Linked DNA regions of Homo sapiens. The protein of the gene in region 1 binds, or shares a complex with, the protein of each later gene. Each region holds a gene or a part of one and is shown on either strand. Other genes may lie near its edges.

Region 1 (8,736 bases):
ATCTCCATTTACAGATGGGGAAACTAAGGCTCAGAGGGGCAAAGTGGCATTCCCATGATCCCACAGCTAGTGACCAGGCAGTGCCAGGACTTGAACTCCGGTCTGTCCTGCTCCAAGGCTAGTGAGAGACTTCAGAGCTCGTGCCAAGAGCTCTTCTGGGCCAGGCACAGTGGCTCACGCCTGTAATCCCAGCACTTTGGGAGGCCGAGGCGGGTGGACCAGCCTGACCAACGTGGAGAAACCCCCATCTCTACTAAAAATACAAAATTAGCTGGGCATGGTGGCACATGCCTGTAATCCCAGCTACTCGGGAGGCTGAGGCAGGAGAATCGCTTGAACCTGGGAGGCGGAGGTTGCGGTGAGGTGAGATTGCTCCAAGAGGGAAACTCTGTCTCCAAAAAAAAAAAAAAAAAGCTCTGCTGGGTGTCTTTTTCTGGCTTTTGCTAGAAGCCCATGATGGTGGATTCTAAATGGGAAGGGCCTGGGGTGATAGTCCTGTCCGGCCCCCTCCTCCGGGCAGATCTGTCAACTTTAAGAGAAGTTGAGTCAACAAAGCTTTGTTAGGAACTGGCCCTTGTGGTGCTGGGCTGGGCTATTTTTAAAGGCCTTTGGAGACGTGGAACAGTTTTGGGCAGAGAGAGAGTTGGCCTGGGTACTTTTCCTCTGTCGAAGCCCTTATTAGGGGTGGGCCGTTGGAGGTGGCGGTGGGTTCATTGGCCTCCTGTCTGCCTCCCGCGCTGACGTCAGCTCCCTAGTGCAGGCCCTTGTGTGTGGAGCTCACAGCTGTGTTCCCCCCATGTGTTGGCCTTTAGTAGGTTCACAGAATGAAAAGTCTCCCAACAGGACAAGCAGAGAAAGCTTCCAGCTTGTTCTCCCGCCCCCAGATGGGCTTCCTTCTGATGGGGAGTGGAGCCATCTGCTCTTTGTTCTGGGGGATTCTGTGTATGGGGTCAAGAGAAGCGCCCCAGGAAGGACTCTCAAATGTCAGAATCTCCTGGTTGATTAATAAACATGAAGGTACCTGGGCTGCCCTCCCGGATTTCCGATTCTTTAGGTCTGGCTGGGGCCCAGGAATTTGCATCCTTGACACGTGTTTGTGCTGCAGATGGTGGTCCTGGGGAGCCCGGATTGAAGACCACAGTTCCAGTGTATGCTGGGGGTCCTAGCCCACCTCATGCATAGCTGGCCACAGTGCCAAGGGGGCCTAGAGGGGAGCCATGGGTCCACGTCCGAGTCGGTGCTGGGCAGTGTCCTTGGTGGGCGTCTCTGGCTCTGTCTGTGGTGGTCTGTGTGTGTGAGGAAGCAGGAGTGTCTAAAGGCCCCAGCAGTGTGGCCCTCACTGGACACACTGGGATTCCACCTGGCTCAAACCCTAACCCAGTCCTCAGCCTTCCACCAGCAACAGGTTAGGGAGAGATGGACAGGGTCACTCTGCAGCCAAGACTTAGACAGTGGCAGTCAGCATTGCGGGCGGCCCAGTTTCTTTCAGGTCTGGCCCACTCTCTTCCAACCTGCTGGTGAGGCTGTTGGCTTCCCCGTGTGTCCCGGCTGTGGGATGGGCCGGTCCCCTCACCTACCTGAGCCTCAGTTTCCTCATCTGCAAAATAGGTGTGCTCATGGCACCTGAACTCAGAGGATGTGAGAAGTCAACAGGGTAACTCATGTGCAGTGTGGGGCCTGATATGTGGCGTGGGGTATGTGGTCAGTAAATGCCAGTGATCGTAATTAATGCTTATTTGTTCATTTTCTTTCTTTCTTTCTTTCTTTCTTTCTTTCTTTCTTTCTTTCTTTCTTTCTTTCTTTTTTTTTTTTTTTGGAGACAGGGTCTGGCTGTGTTGCCCTGACTGGAGTGCAATGGTGCAATCATGGCTCACTTAAACCTTGACCTCCTGGGTCCAAGCAATCCTCCTGCCTCAGCCTCCCCAGTAGCTGGGACCATGGGTGTACAACACCACACCTGGCTAATTAAAAACATTTTTTTTGTAGAGTTAGGGTCTTGCCCTTTTGCCTGGGCTGGTCTCAAACTCTTGGCCTCAAGCAATCCTCCTGCCTTGGCTTCCCAAAGTTCTGGGATCACAGGCCTGAGCCACCGCACCCGGCCTTAATATATATCATTTTGACCATACAATACAGCTTCATCTTGAACTGGGCTTATGTGTATTTTGTGGGCAAATTTCTTCTCTCCACAGAGGAATCTTGCTGACTCTGGTCTTTGTGCCTGGCACACAGAAGGTGACATCTATGACTGCTGTGCCTGAATCCCAGCAGGGGCCTGCTCTTACGTGTAGCGGCCTCCGCAGCCCCACTTGTGAATTGTGAAGCTGCCCTGGCCTGTTCATTAAGTGCTCACTGTGTGCCAGGCATGGAGACAGAGGAGTGGACCAGAGAGATGGAATCCCTGGCCTCAGGAGGAAAGCAGCCGGGTTATCCGAAAACTCCAGCATGGGGGTGCAAGCCATTTGTGGTGGTCTGAGCTGCATCCCCTTAAAGGCTTCTGAGGCCACTGCAGGCCCAAGCCAGCCAGGCCCAAGAGGCACAACCTCTGCCCTCCTCCCTTCTCCTTCTCCTCCCCATGATGTTTGCGGTCCTTCCCAGGGACCCTCGGTCTGGGACTCAGGGGTGGCCACCTCCTCCCTGTTGCCTTTGGTCAGCCCAGGCTCTGCCTTGACCTTGCCTGCCAACCTTGACTCTCCTCTGCCTTTTCCCTAATGCCCAGAATGGTGCCGGCACACAGGAGCAGGTGGAGGGCAGGAGCCCACGGCTGACGCCTCTGTGACCCCGAGCAGAGGACGGGTCCCTGGCTCCAGGTTGGGGTCAGCAGTTGGGTTCTTGGGTGTCTCTGGTTGTGGACTGTCCTGGGGCCCATGAGGGCCCCTTCCTCTAGGGTGAGGAATATTCTCTGATCATCACTCCCCACCCAACTCTGCTCAACCAGGGTGGGCCAAGCTGCTGCCTTCAGGAGGCAGTCACTGGAGACCATCTTGGGACAAAGCTGGGGGTTGTGTGATGGCTGCGTGGGGACATGGAGGGCCCACAGCCAGGCACAGGGTGAGCCACAAGGAGAGGAAAGGACCAAAGCAAGGGAGGGGCTTCGGCCGTCCCTGTACATCCCGTGTGCGTGGGCATGAACCAAGGAGGCCTTTCCTTTCTCTGACAGTGGAGCAGAGCAGCAGCAGGAGAGACTGAGGTGGACTCTCGGCATCGGGATGGGCATCTGGGCAAGAAACATCACCTGTGTTATTAGGAGAGGACTCGATCCCCTGCGGTGCGGGGCTGGGTCCTCACTCGGCCTTGGTGACCTTGGGGAAGTCCCTTGGCCTCTCTGAGCACCAGCTTGCTCATCCTTCAGACCTGCCTTCCAACTCCATGGATCTAAACAGGAGAAGCTTTGCAGTCCGGGGAGCGGGCCAGAAAGACAAAGGGGTTGTTTGGCAGGAGAGTCCCTGGGAGGGAAGGAGGGCTCAGGGGCGAGTTCTGCGGTTCTGGCCCCTTCCTTGGGCAAACCTCCTCTCACCGGCTTCACTTTCCGCCTCTGGAAAATGGGCAGTTTTGGAAGGCCTCAGTGTTGAGGAGGATTCGGGGCATATGAAGGGTTTAGCTTGGTGCCTGGTTCTGAGGGGAACCTTTATTTATTTATATTTTTATTTCTATAGAGATGGGATCTCGCTATGTTGGCCAGGCTAGTCTCGAACTCCTGGCCTCAAGTGATCTCCTCCCATCTCGGCCTCCTGAAGTGTTGGGATTACAGGCATGAGCTGCTGCGCCTGGCCATGAGGGGAACCTTTCAAAACTTTCCTGGCAGCAGCTGGTCCTTGGGGTGCAAGTCTTCCGCATCCAGGGCAGGTGGCCTGTGGCCACCCCCTTGTACAGAGAGGGAAGGGGCAGCTGGTGAATGGCAGGGACTCACCCAGGCCCCAGAGCCCAGCCTCCTCCTCACAGGCTCTTTTTGCCCTTTCTGCCTCCTTGGGCTCCAGGTTAAATGGGACCCAGCTTCTCCCTTCCCTACATCACCCCACAGAATTCTCCCATCACCCCGTGTCAGGGGAAAGCCCTTTTCCCCGGCAGAGGCCTTGGGATCGGACCCAGCTCCTGCTGCTCCCAAGGCCTGTCTTAAACCCCTTTGGGGCAAGGCATGGGCAGTGGAGGGGGGTGGTGTCCTGTCGAGTGGGCCGGGCCCATGTCACCCTCTGAGAGGCCACAGGAAGGAATTTGGACATTATTCGAGATCCGTAGGGAGCCGTGGAAGGGAGGTGATGGAGACACATTAGATTTGGGTTTAGAAAAATTGTTGTTGGCTGCAGTCCCGGAATGGACTGGCGGGGAAGAGGGGTGGTAATGAGACCGAAGGTGATCATGGTGATGAACTGGAGTATCGGTGGGGATGACATGAAAGACAGATTCCAGATATATTTAGGAGGAAGACTCAGTAGGACTTGGTTTCCCTCCCCTCCCCTCCCCTCCCCTCCCCTCCCCTCCCCTCCCCTCCCTTCTTTCCCCTCCCCTGCCCTCCCCTCCCCTTCCCTCCCCTTCCCTCCCCTTCCCTCCTCTTTTTTTTTTTGAAACAGAGTCTTACTCTGTCACCCAGGCTGGAGTACGGTGGCACGATCTTGGCTTACTGCAATCTCCACCTCCCGGGTTCAAGCAAATCTCCTGTCTCAGCCTCCCGAGTAGGGGATTACAGGCATCCGCCACCACTCCCAGCTAATTTTTGTATTTTTAGTAGAGACGGGGTTTCACCATATTGGTCAGGCTGGTCTCGAACTCCTGACCTCAGGTGATTCACTCACCTTGGCCTCCCAAAGTGCTGGGATTACAGGCATGAGCCGCTGTCCCTGGACTCATAGTTTTCATTACCTTGTAAATTTGGGATTATCTACTTTTTATTTTCTGACTTAAAAAAACCTGACCATTCTGAATGTTTGCCCGTATCATGAACTATGCTTTTAGAGCATGATTTTTTTTCATGGTGCATCATATGGACAGAACATATTTTATTTAATCTCCTGTCATTGGACAGTTAGCTTCCTCCTCCCATATTGAAAATACTGAGATGAACATCTTTGTACCACATCTTTGCATGAATGTCTTTGCACTAAATCTTTGCACTTATCTTTTCTTGAAGATAAGAACCCAGAACGGGGTTATGGAGTTAAAAGGCTGGGGATGTTTTGAAAGGCTTTTGATTAAAAATTGTTGAATTGCTCTCCAGAAAGGCTGTTCCAGTTTACATTTTCAGCAAAAGTAGATGAGAGAGTGCCTATTTCTCTGCATTCTTGCCAGCACTGGGTATTACTGTTTTCCTTACTTCTTGCCAATTTTATGGGGAGGAAAAGAGGTGGCTCACTGTGTCAACATTTATTTCTTTGAATACTATGAAATAGAATCCTAGTATCTTTCAGCTGGAGGAGACTCTTGGGGCCAAGTAGTTCAATGCCCTCATTTTACAAGTAGGCAAATTAAGCGCCAGAAAGGTGAAGCATCTTCCCCAAGGTCACACAGCAAATATGTGGCAGGAACTGCTTTGTTCCTGTCAGGGCACCTCCCACTGTGCCAAGGTGAGTTGGCTGTTGGGGTTCAGATAGGGATGTCTTGCCTTCTTTTTATCTATCTATCTATCTATCTATCTATCTATCTATCTATCTATCTATCTATCTATCGAGATGGAATCTCACTTCCGTCACCCAGGCTAGAGTGCAGTGGCGCGATCTCGGCTCACTATAATCGCCACCTCCCGGGTTCAAGCTGTTCTCCTGCCTCAGCCTCCTGAGTAGCTCGTATTAGAATGTGCACCACCACACCTGGCTAATTTTTGTATTTTTAGTGGAGATGGGGTCTTGCCATTTTGGCCAGGTTGGTCTCAAACTCCTAGCCTCAAGTGGTGCACCCACCTTGGCCTCCCAAAGTGCTGGGATTACAGGCGTGAGCCACCACGCCTGGCCTAGGGATGTCTTGACTTCTTCACTGAGGTCTTCTGCTGGGGTTCATCTTGCCCCAGATATCTCTAGCACTCTGGTAAGAAAAAAAGCCAATATAAATTAAAAAGCACATCATCATTATGGTCATAACAAGATGAATCAATTTTCACATTCTGTGTGTGATCTATTTTGCAGGGCAGAGAGTGTCAGAGATTACGTTGCGGCGTTTCTAGGTAACTTGAGATTGGGGTCATATTCTGACCAAGGGCAGAACGGCAGGTGCTGAGGACTTGAAGGTCAGTTCTGCTGTTTCCTGGCTGGGCAATCCTGGCCAGCTCCTTACGTCTCTGAGCTCTGAGGTCCCTTGCGCATGAGACAGGGATGTTTGCACAGGGATCTGCACGTAGTAGGTGCTCAGTAAATGCTCTCCCAGGAAGGAGGCTGCTGGACCGGCTGTATCAGGGACAGCCGTTCTTGGCCACTCCCCTGGGCAATCACAGAGTGAGCTGTCACAGGCTCTTGGCTGAATTGGGAGCGAGTGGCAAACATGGAGGGCCTCTGTGGTGGCCCGGCTGGGTTGGTGGCCGGATTGTTCTGTGTCTGGCTCCTGGCTTGGTGAGTTGGGGAGGGAGAAGGGTTGTGGCAGGCTGGCTTTTAGGCTCCTGTGCGCCCAGGGGCTCAGAGGATGGACAGCAGCCTGCCTGGGATTAAGTCCCAGGACCATCATGGCCTGGACAGTGGCTTTGGAGTCACTAGTTCCCTCTGGGACTCAGTTTCCCTTTCTGTACCATGTTCAAATTCCCAGATAGTGAGACCCAGTGGGGAAGGTACGTCAGGGCCCCAGGGACGGAGTGTGCTTGGGCTGTGGTGTTCAAGACCCAGGCCCTTGGATCTTCTCAGCCTCAGGCATGGTTCTTAGCCTCTCGATACCTTAGTTTTCTTATCTGGGGGTTGGGGATAAGGGACTTCTACTACACAGAGCCGTGTGCGGGGTTAGGAATAACAGACGTTGAACTTGGCGGCTCATCTCGGCCCTCCTTTTGCTCCTGGTGGTGGTGGAGGATCTGCGAGCTGCAGCACGGGACGGTCAGGGGCTGTCACTGCGGTGAGAATCTGGTATTAGGCATGTTCCGTGTGACCCAGGCCTGTCCTTGGTGTTCACGTGTGTTCCTCACCAATTCCACCCAGGAGCCCTGTGGGGGTCCCCTTTTTACAGATGAGGAAATGGAGGCTCAGAGTGGATGAGAGCTGGCTCATGGTCCCACGGCTGGAGAGTGGTGCCATTGGGGTCTGATCCCCGTCCCCTCTCAGCCTGGAGTCTGCACACTGAAGCCCTGGGCCGCGGTGAGGGGCCCCTGCTTGGTGGAGGTGCCAGGGAGCCGCCATGGAGGTGTGCAGGTGAGCGTGAGCGGGCCCGGGTGCCTGGTGTGGGTGTTGCAGGCAGGGCGGGTGCTGCGGGGCACGTGGGCAAGTCCCGATTCACGTGGGCACGCTCCGAGCGTGAGTGACGGGGTCATGGCGTGTGTCAGGAGTGGGTGAGCCGGGCACTCCTGTGCGCACGCGTGTGGTGGTGTGTGAGGGCAGCTCTGTACAGGTTGTAAATGTAGGTGTGCCTGGGGGTGGGGGACGCTGGGGAGGGAGGCACAGACAGGCCGGGAGCCGCGCCAAAGGCTGGGAGCTCAGCTGCCAGGTCTGGAACCAGGTGATAAGCTGCCACTCCCCAAGGCAGTAGGGGAGTATTGTGGTTGGGGGGAGATGACAGCAATGACGACCACCGTTTACCCAGTGGGCACTCGGGACCAGGAGTGCTGAGTGCTGCCCTCTCCCCAAAGCCCTGGGAGTAGGGACCCTTATACCCATTTTACAGATGAGGAAAGGGAGGCCCAGGCAAGTTCAGGGACACGCCCAAGTCCCCCCAGCCAGCCAATCGATGGCCAGTCGGGGTTCAGGCTTAGATCTTTATGTTGCCAGAGCCACGCCCTTCCCACCCGGCGCCTGCCTCCCACCGTCTCTGTGAGCCTCAAAACCTTGGAGTTCCCTGCCAAGGGGAGGGAGCGCCCAGTCCCTGGGAGCATCCAAGCCGCTGCTGGAGCATCAGACACTGGCCAGGCATCCCGGACTCCTGGGCTGGGTGTGAGGTTGGTGGCAGATAGGATCCTTCCCGCTGGTTCCAGAGGTTCTGCCTCCTGCAGGAGATTTGGGGCAGCCTCCGCCTTGCCTTCCTCCAGGAAGGAGGCAGAGTTGAGGCCTTGTGGAAAGGCGGCAGGAGGAGAGGCGCTGATAGGAGTGTGTGGCGCAGCTGTGCCCTGGCCTCAACGGCTTCCTCAGCCTCCACCCACCCCAGTGGAGGCTCAGCAGGTGCTGACCGTGTGTGGGCGCTGGGCTGATCTCAATGGTCATCCTCCCGCCCTGGGAACTTAGGAGCAACGTACCGCCATCTTACGGTGCTGGCACCACCCCTGCTCCTGGGAAGCCTTGTCACGGACAAGGTGGTGAGGACTGAGTGCCCCTGGCCATCCTGCCCTGCCCTGTGCCTGGCTCAGCCCAGGTGCCTTCGGAGGTATCTGTCCGACAGAGAAAGAGACCAAGTCCTCACAGGTGCAGTGTGGGTTTTGGGGGCATGGTGGCCAAGGGGACCCCCGTGACTTTTAGCTCCTTGAGGTCTGGGCCACATCTTGTGGTCTTTGGTGTCTGTGGGGTGTGTGGCCCGGGGTGTCCTCGCCTCTGCAGAAGGCTGGGATCTTTCCGAAGAGTTTTTCCCTGCAGTGCTGTGGTTTGCTCTCCCTGGTGACCAGGACAGGACCTGCCTGTGCTCCTGACC
Region 2 (3,428 bases), on another chromosome or scaffold:
CAGACAGACGCGTTGGCACAGTTCATGGTTTCCTCCAGAGGAGACATTGGCTTATCATGGGGAAAAAGAGGATCTGGAGAACCTCATCCAGCTCCCCTTCTGAATCAGCTGGGATGACTGGCTTTGAGAAGGAAGGGAAGATGGAACAGGCTCAGATCTCATGGGATAGCACGTGGAGCTCTTGGCTGGGGCTGACCCTGGGCAGGGACTTTCCTGCAGGGCCAGACCTGCCTGCATTCTGAGACAAAGCAATGGACGGTCCGCAGAAGCAGACCTCATTGATTGAGTCCTTTCTTCCATCCCCTTGGCCTGCTCCCTGTAGGAAGTCATCCTGCCAACTGATTTAAAAGGGCTCTTTAGCCAGTTGTTGCCAACCTTATAGGGATGAGTCCCCTGTGAGATTTTGCTTTTCCACTGCCTGGGATGATGCAGTTTGAAGAGGCCCTTGGACCTCCTTGTAACATCAGGGACCTTTGGAGACCATTATCAGTGTAAGCCCTGCTTAGCTCATCTTAGAGCAAAGAGCCAGCACCCTGATGTCCCTGGGGTGGCTAGGCAGGAGTGGCGTGGGGCCAATACCCAGACCCCTTCAGCCACCAGCCCCTGGCCTGTGCCTTCCAACCCATTAGCCATTTCTTGTTGTGCCCCTTTCCAAGATACAGCCTGCAAGTGGTAGCAAGAAGTGATTAGAGGCAGATCTGGACTTGGCAACAGAAGTGGTTTCCCATCTCCATTGTCTGAGTCTGATTTTCGCTGATGCTGTTTTGTGGATTTTTGTGGTAGTGATGGTTGTCAGTGCTGCCAGTTTCCCAAAACGTAATCAAGCCTCTGGTCACATGGCTGTCGATGTAGGCATTCTGGAGTGGTGTTCAGCCAAGTGACCGGGCAAAATTGGGCTGTGAAATTGTACTTCCAGGCTTGGATGTAATTTTTGCTCTAGAGAGAAGCAAGTGGTGGGAAGGAGGTAGCATGACGTGTGGTGTGCGGGTTTCCTTGCTGCCGTCACCTCTCCGCTCATACAGGAATGAAGCCTTAGCCAGGAGGCCAGGCTCAGCCCTGTGCCACTCACCGAAGCCACTTTCTACAGGCCAGCAGGGGCTTGTTGCAGGCTGTGGGTTTTGGTGTGGTTTGTCAGAGGCTAATTCTGCAGAGTTTCCAAAACCAGAAGACATCGTATGCTTGGGATGGGGGCCGTGCCACCCGTGGGAATGCTGCCCGCTCTGCAGACTGCTGCTAGAGCCAGCAACTCCACTAAGGTGGATTTTCATCAGGGGCCTGCAGGGCCCTCCCTTTTCCCATTGTTCCTGCGCTGCAAATTGCAGGCCCCAGCAATCGTGACTGACGTTTGCTCCTTGACTCCAAGAAACTGAGACCAAAGAAGCTGCTGTTCTTAGCAAGATGCGCACTGCATTCCACAGGTGGGAGGAGTCGGAGAGGCAGGGGCTTGCTTTGCAGCCCCACAGACAACAGTTGCACAGTGCCTCAAGCCCCAGAGTGGCTCACCCTGTCCAGACCTTTGAGGATATCAAAGGACAAAGTGCCCAAGTCTTTCCTACCTTGGGGGAACCTGGAACTTGGAAAGGCTCCCTGTCCTAGTCTTGATCTGTTCTGGGCCAGGTCCCAGCTTGAGCTGCCTCTGAGATTTGGGCTGTGCGGATCTCTGGAGTGAGCTCTGTTTCGGTTGACCCAGGTCATGGAATGGAAACGGTGAGGCCCCAGTGGCTGTTCTGGAAGAAACAGATCTCCTGGCAAAGGCCCCAGCATCTCCCTCACTGAAACCAGGTGGCCGGCTCCTCGGACTCTGCTTTATGTTGCGGTGAGAACTCTGCCCAGGTGTGCAGGGTTTGGCTTGTGGGCTGCTTGCTGCTCATCTGATTTTTGTCCCAGTAGTCCCTGCGTTCTTCATTCAACCCCTTCTGGGACTTCAGCTCAGAGAGCACCATCCCGGGGGTCAGGGCCTCCCCACAGGAGCCCTGCAGTGTGGTAGCGCCATGGCTGTCTCAAACCAAGCAAAGGAAGGACCCTGAGGCCTTCACGCTAACCGTCCTCGAGCAACTGCTGTTGGAAGGCCTCCCTGGGCCTGGCCCCCACCCTCTGCCACCCAGTCCTCCCAGCTGCCATGTTTCAAAGACGACCTTTACCTCCTGCCTTTGGATTGACTCTGCATTTGACCACGGACTCCAGTCTGTGTGTAGGGAGAGAGCTGAGTAGGAGGCCTCCACTCCGGATCGAGGCCTGTATAGGGCTCGTTTCCCCACACATGCCTATTTCTGAAGAGGCTTCTGTCTTATTTGAAGGCCAGCCCACACCCAGCTACTTTAACACCAGGTTTATGGAAAATGTCAGGCCTTCCCCACAACTCCTGTCTAACTGCTGTCGCCCCCCTACTTGCTGGCTCTCAGAAGCCTAGGGGAGTCCCTGTGGTCCTGAATTCTTTCCCCAAAGACGACCAGCATTTAACCAACCTAAGGGCCCAAAGGCCTTGGACAACTGCATGGAGCTGCACTCTAGGAGAAGGAGGGGAACCAGATGTTAGATCAGGGGAGGGAGCAGGAGTGTCCCTCCCGTCAGTGCCTACCCACCTGTGAGGCAGCCTTCTGATGGCCTGGCCCACCTTCCCCAGAACCAGGGGAGGCCTGAGGCTTCAGTTTTACTCTGCTGCAAAATGAAGGCGGGCCTGCAAGCCGACTACACCTACGGAGGCTGTTGAGGACAATTTCATTCCATTAAATTAAAAAATACTGACTGGCTGGCAGGCAGGTGCCATGTCTGGGAACAGGGACGGGGGAGCTTCACCTTTTTGTCTTGGCTTTTCTTTGGGCTGTGGGGGGGCATCCATTTCCAGGGTCGGGGAGGAAATACCAAATGCATTGTTGTTCTGCTCAATACATCTCACTTGTTTCTAATAAAGAAAGCAGCTGAACAAAACCTTCTGTCCTGGTATTCCTGGTCAGCAGGTGGCAGTGGAAGAAATGGAGTGCTGGAGCCTAGGCTGGAGCCAGGACGACAGGGCTTGGACACAAAGTCCCTCAAGCCCACAGCACCAGGCCAGCTTCCAAAGGCCTTCCTTTAAGGCTGCCCTTCTTCCAGGGCAAACTTGGTGTTGTCAGACCCTTCCCACCCGCCAGAGACGAGCTGCTATTGACCCAGGTTCACTCCAAGTTAGAGCAGCAACTGGGCTCTCAGCCAGCACCTGAGCACCTCAGCACAGGAGCCGGCCCAGGCTTCCCTAGCTGGGCACAGAGCAGCCCCCTTGGTCCAGGTCAGCAGTGGCTCCTCTGGTGGAGGTGCAGGCCCCGTGCCTTCCCACTGTGCCCAGGTGCCACATCTCTCCTCCTGCACCACTGGCCGGGTGGTTCTTTGAGTCACTAGGGGTGCATTTTAACATGGCAAGTTGCTGGGCCCCAGTAGCTGTGTTTAAGACTTCC

The links. The genes of interacting proteins can lie anywhere in the genome.
Region 2: the proteins of NCS1 (region 1) and NMT1 are in contact, whole or in part, in a crystal structure (PDB 5O9S), measured with the Homo sapiens proteins. Residues at the interface, in NP_055101.2 of Homo sapiens: Gly2, Lys3, Ser4, Asn5, Ser6, Lys7, Leu8, Lys9; in NP_066565.1 of Homo sapiens: Tyr180, Val181, Glu182, Asp183, Asp184, Asp185, Met187, Phe188, Arg189, Phe190, Tyr192, Asn246, Thr282, Ala283, Gly284, Arg295, Tyr296, His298, Ser300, Lys310, Phe311, Ser312, Tyr401, Leu403, Ser405, Tyr420, Gly468, Ile469, Gly470, Asp471.

The regions. Positions count from the first base shown.
Region 1 is NC_000009.12:130,174,395-130,183,130, forward strand, and holds part of NCS1 (neuronal calcium sensor 1), read left to right. Parts: intron 1-8,736. UniProt on the Homo sapiens protein: Neuronal calcium sensor, regulator of G protein-coupled receptor phosphorylation in a calcium dependent manner. Directly regulates GRK1 (RHOK), but not GRK2 to GRK5. Can substitute for calmodulin. Stimulates PI4KB kinase activity.
Region 2 is NC_000017.11:45,106,089-45,109,516, forward strand, and holds the end of NMT1 (glycylpeptide N-tetradecanoyltransferase 1), read left to right. Parts: 3' UTR 1-2,928; downstream 2,929-3,428.